Regions from separate parts of the Homo sapiens genome. Here region 1 is linked to region 2. Evidence: fine-mapped expression QTL. A gene starts in region 2. The other region holds a variant in brackets. All regions are shown on one strand. Distances are from middle to middle.

Region 1 (2,910 bases), 95 kb after region 2:
TGCAATTAATACATTTAGGTTATAAACAGTTCAATAATACAGAAGCAGATGAAATAATAAGCGAAAGTTCCCTTCTGGTTTTTCTCCTTCACATTCAACGCCATTCCCCAAGGCATAGCCACTATTAATATTTTGGCATATTCCTCCAAGTGTCTTTCCATGCCTATACTGAACTCAATTAGTTTCTCAAACTCAAAGAGTAATTCTACTGCAAAGACATCCGGCCAAATCTTTGAAATTCCTAAAGAAGATGTTTGCACTTGACCATGTGTATCACAATGTTGGGCAAAGCCTTGGGCAAGAGGATAGTTTCAGCAATGAGGCTTCTTCCAGGAACCACACCTCTGAGAGTTCATTGTGGGCTACATCATAGATTCAGCCCTGTTCAGTACAGTTATTTGTAGGACCAAAAAAATGCTACATGGTGCCCAAGTGTAACACACCAGTAATTAAATTGATAAATCTTCTTTATTACCAATTCTTCTATAATATAGGTACATTCATGCCCCCAAGATAATCATAAAATATATTTTCTTTGGTATTCAATGCCCTGGAAATGCCAACAGAATTGTGTCTGTATGTACATCAGCTTTTAGTTGGAAAATTAGCTATGGAAAATTTACTCTCTCCTCTGACCTGGAAAATATTACTCCTACAAATTAAAGATAAGGCAAATGTCATAAGGATGTGAGGAGATAACTTTGATGAGATAAGAAACTGCAGTTGAATGAGATCCTACATGCATACTCACAATACATTAAAGCCGCTCAAATTTTCAAAGAAAAAATGTCTGCCTTTTTTCTGGAGCTAAAATTAATCATATTGCATACACTAAATTGTGAGTATTCCTACAGGGAATTCATTGGTTGGAAGTTACTACCAAGGACTAAAATGGAATAAAATAGCCCCACTTAAGAACTATAAATCTTTCTAAAGTTAAGTATTTCAGAGAGAACCTGTGTGAAAAGATATATTAGAATGGTAACTAAGCATACTAGGATATTGAGCAAGAAATTGTCAAAAATTTAAGTCTTATGTTTAATGTTTTAAAATTTGGTATAAAAATAGGAACCAATATGTAGCAAGTGTTAATTCTTGGTCCAGCAGTTTTCTTAAAACATCCTTGATATTTTAACTGTTTCTGGTGAGGCATCTCCCCAGTTCAGAAAGTAATTATAATTTAAATAAAAATTATTATAATAAAGAATAGCTAACATTTATTAAGCATTTATTATATGCTAAGCACTATTTCAAGGTATTTATATTATTCCATTTCATCCTCACAGCACATTATTATCACTCATTTTAAACATATGACTACTCCTGACTTTTAGAATTATTGGAGACTAAAGATCTGCTTATTTAGGGTGTTGTTTGGAGGTGACAAAAGATTCAGTGGTTTCAAAAACTTTTGTGCAAGGAGGGCATTCTGGGAAGATGACAAAGTAGGAAGCAACAGGAATTTGTCTGCCCACCTAGAAACAATTTCACTGGCAAAATCTGTCGGATGTAGCTATTGAGGAACTCTGGAGTCTG[T/C]TGAAAATTTGCAATGTCTAGGGAAGGCTTAGTAAATTGTGGTTAACTGTGGTCAATTTCAGCTCTTACTGCAGTAGCAGCTATCCTTCCTTCACCCCCAGCCCCATGGTATGCAGGTATGTACTTGTTCCCGAAGCAGCTTTTACACAGTTTGTGGGAGCCAGGGGACCCTGACCTCCAAATGCTGGGGATTTGTGCATTTGTGCTCTGCTCACTGATTGCAGCTTCTTCTTCTGTTTTTTGTTTGTTTTGTTTTGTTTTGAATAACCTGTGTGTGGATTTTTTTTTTTTTTTTAAACCAGGTCTTGCTCCATCACCCAGGCTGGAGCACAGTTGTGCGATCATAACTCACTGCAGCCTGGAACCTCTGGGCTCAGGAAATTCTCCCACTTCAGCCTCCCAAGTAGCTAGGACTACAAGCATGTACCAACACACCCAGCTAATTTTTAAAATTCTTTTAGAGACAAGGTCTCACTATGTTGCCTAGGCTGGTCTTGAACTACTGGCCCCAACGGATCCTCCCATCTCAGCTTCCCAAAGTACTCAGATTACAGGCATGAGCCACTGTGCCCAGCCATCACTGATTGCAGCTTCTGATCACAGAGGCGCAGACAAACACATAGTTGGCCATTGTTGCTGCATCTCTCCCACTGTGGCAAGCCCCTCCCTGTCCAGCTGAAGTGACTTCCAAAGGAGTAAATGGCTGGCACCACTCTCCACATCCTTAGTTTTCTCTTTTTTCCCTTTTGGGAGGCAGACATTGAAGACTAGGACATTCAAAAGCAACTGCATATACATTAGCAATTAGAACAAATGTTCATGCCCAGAGAAAGACAGGCTCAGAAAAGACCTGAGAAGACCTTAATTTTACACCTCAGGCTTATCCTTGGCGCAGAAACAACCTACCTAAAACAATTTTTAAAAAAATAAAAAAAAATGAAAATAGTATAACCTGGGAAAGGGAAAGAATATGATTTCCAGAGTTACTGCATTATTAGATTTAAATGTCTGGTTTTTGATAAAAAAAATTATAAGGCATACACAAAGAAACAGGAAAATATAGTCCATTCAAAGGAAGAAATAAATAAACAAAACAGCCCCTGAAAAAGATCTGATGGTCTCTGGGCACAGTGCCTCATGCCTGTAATCCCAGCACTTTGGGAGGTCGAGGCAGGCAGATCACTTGAGGCCAGGAGTTCGAGACCAGCCTGGTCAACATGGTGAAACCCCATCTCTACTAAAAATACAAAACTTAGCCAGGTGTGCTGGTGCACACCTCTAGTCCCAGCTACTTGGGAGGCTGAAACACGAGAATCCCTTGAACCCAGGAGGTGGAGGTTGCAGTGAGCTGAGATCATGCCACTGTACTCCAGC
Region 2 (2,910 bases):
GATGGGGACAGCCTTCGGCGGGTACTCGGCTGCGCTCGAGCCCCGGGACGCACCGCTCCGGTGGCGGCGGCGGAGGGACTAGAGGTCGGCCAGGGTCCTCCGCGGCGCCTGCCTCCTCTGCTCCCCCCTACCTTGTCTCCAGGGGGAGGAGCAGCTGATGGGAACGTGTGACTTTTTTCACCAATGGACCCAAACCCACCCCAGCTGGGCGCAGGATGGGGGTGGGGGTGGGGCACTGGAAAAAAAAAAAAAAAAACTTTTCTTGGCGCCTAGGCTGGTGGCTGAAGTGCTCGCCCAAGGCGAGGGTGGCCCTCCCCTCCCGGGAAGAAGCTGTGGAGCGGACCGCCCCCGCCTCTCTTCCCCGGCAGGGACCCTTCCCCCGCCGCCACGCGCCCCGCAGACCCCGCCACCTGGACACGGACCGGGCCAGTGCAGGCAGAGGCAGGTCTGGAGGGGGCGCGAGACGCAGGGATGCGGCCGGTGGGAAGCGGCCGGTGCCTCCTAGACGCCCGCCAGGTTCCAGTGGCGCATCCGCAGCTACGGTCCCCTCGGCGGCTCCGGGCAGGCGCCGAGGCGCGCTGCTGGCGGTCGCGGCGGCTGGAGGGGGCCGTGCTCACGGTGGCGTGGGGCCGACTTAACCCTTTACAGTCCCTCCAGGGGCTGGGGAAGGGGGTGAGGAGCGATGGCTGTGAGCGCCGACGGGGGCAGCCAGCCCGCAGGCGTCTCGGGCTCCTCCAGCCCGCCGCCTCCCCACGGCCCCAGCTCCTCTTCCCTTCCGCCCCCAACCCCCAACACTTTACCTGTTGGTCCGCGGCTAGCGGGCTGGGGCTGGCGGCGGCGGGGTCACTCCGGCCGCCGCAGCCTCCATCATTCGGGTTGGGATGGGGGACTTGGATTTGATTTTATTTGTGCGGTATCTGCCTCGCCCGGACGAGCTCCGGGAACGCCGCGAAGTTTGCCACTGTCTGGGGGCGGCGAGCGACGCCGGCTCGCCGCCGGCGTTCTCGCCCCCACGGCCCGGGAGCGCGAGCTTCCGAGTTGGCGGACGGCGGCGCGGCGTCCGCACTGAGCATGCCCAGCTCGGCGGCCGGACCGCGGAGGAGTTGGCTGAGAGCGCGGTGAGCGCGCTCCAATCCGCCTCTCCGGGTTTTCGCAGCCGCAGAGCGCGCAGCCCGCGGGCCCCGGCGCCGAGGCTGGCCCTGGGGTGAACCTGGGCGAGGGAGGGAGCGCCCTCTGGAGCCCTGCTCCAAGCCCCCCGCTGCACCCTCCGCCTCGACCTCCCCAGAGGTCGCGGTCCCCGTGGCCTGGGCCGAAAACCTCACCTGCGCCGGGAGCGTGGAAGGGGCGGGGGGGGTGATCCTCCAGGGCAGACCTTGGTCATCCAACCCGCCCTCGCTCCTCGCTTCGGGGCGCGGGCACCAAGATGCTGGGCCACCTGGCGCGAGCTCTGCGAGACCGGAGCCGCGGAGGCGGGCTCGGCCTGTCCTGAGGGACCCCGCGGGAGGCGTGCCCGGGAGAATGCGCCCGCACTTGGCCAAGAATGATGGCTGCCATTTATGGAGCCTTCGCTACGTGCCAGGATCTTGATAGTCAGAATCTCTGGTCCTTACAACCTTCCACGGTCTTACTGTACCCTTTTTATGGATGGAGAAATTGAGCCAGCTCAGAGAGGACCACTCACTTGCCGAAAGCCACGAAACGAGTCGGAATTTGAACCCACGACTGATTCTAAGTTTCTGACCTGTTTTCCCTGACTTGGACTTGGAGGGACTGGGTTCCTAACCTGTCCTTGCCTGATGGACTCACGTTCTCCACGGCTTGAGGCATTCTCGGCCTTCCCTCTCTGTAAGGTGGTAAAGGCAGATTCTAACCGGAAGCCTTTGATACATAGTAGGTGCTCTGGAAATGCTGGTTGAATCTGAACATCAACTTTGATGTTCGTTGACATTTAAGCAAAGGGGGAAGAAGGAGATAAATAAAGTGAAGGTAATGTGGTAGAGGCTAGTTCCTCACTCCTGATCCTGACCTGTGAGCACCTCCAAACCCAGTTTGAGGCTGAGTCAGGTGTTTAGCTTTTGGCTTCCTTAATCTGAACAATTACTTCTAGAGAGCATTTACCTAACTTCACTGGAGGGCATTTCCTGACCACCTTCCCCATCTTGCCCCAGGGTCTTCTCTTCCACTAATATCCTGGGATTAATTTCATGGCTGGACTTGCCCTTGTGATACAGGCATCTATCAAATGTAGCTCCCTTGTTTGAAAGAAAGGACAGTTTTTTGTTGTTGTTGTTTTCTTTGTTTGGTTGGTTGGTTGTTTTTTGAGACAGAGCCTCGCTCTGTCGCCCAGGCTGGAGTGCAGTGGCGAGATCTCGGCTCACTGCAAGCTCCGCCTCCTGGGTTCACGCCATTCTCCTGCCTCAGCCTCCCGCGTAGCTGGGGCTACAGGCGCCCGCCACCACGCCCGGCTAATTTTTTTTGTATTTCTTTTTTTTAGTAGAGACGGGGTTTCACAGTGTTAGCTAGGATGGTCTCGATCTCCTGACCTCGCAATCCGCCCACCTCGGCCTCCCAAAGTGCTGGGATTACAGGCGTGAGCCACCGCGCCCGGCCGAAAGGGTTTTTTTTATTATCTAACTTTATTAGGGAAATTATTAAACATACAAAAAGCTGAAGAAATCATATAAGGAGCCCTCAAATATTCATCTCTCAGCTATAAAAATTAAAGTTACTATTTTTGTTTCATCTTTCTCCCCCATTCCCAACTCACTGACATACACTAGTAAGGACAGTTTTACTCATTGTTGCAACTCAGAAACACTGTATGGGACCTGACACATGGTGAGCATTCAAAAATGTTGGCTTATGGAATGGATGATAGGTAGGCGATGTGTGGATGGACTGATGATTGCA

Which allele goes with the higher level. Alleles are on the strand shown, and positions count from the first base shown. SD is a standard deviation of normalised expression in the study named.
For the expression in neutrophils of the gene that starts at base 1,073 in region 2, T is the high allele of the variant in region 1 and C is the other (large effect, 1.1 SD a copy in BLUEPRINT).

What was found. PIP is the estimated chance that this variant, and not a neighbour inherited with it, causes the effect.
Region 1: its variant is fine-mapped to the expression of MED12L in neutrophils (BLUEPRINT, PIP 0.95).

The regions. Positions count from the first base shown.
Region 1 is chr3:150,988,644-150,991,553 of GRCh38, reverse strand. The region is part of intron 1 of CLRN1-AS1 (CLRN1 antisense RNA 1); the gene reads right to left. Among named protein-coding and RNA genes, the nearest start is that of CLRN1, 17 kb to the right of the region's middle. The variant T/C (reference allele first, on the strand shown) is at 1,537.
Region 2 is chr3:151,083,827-151,086,736 of GRCh38, reverse strand. It overlaps MED12L (mediator complex subunit 12L), which reads right to left and starts at 1,073. Exons shown (of 45, transcript NM_001393769.1): 1 at 801-1,073. RefSeq lists silencers at 321-615, 1,052-1,421.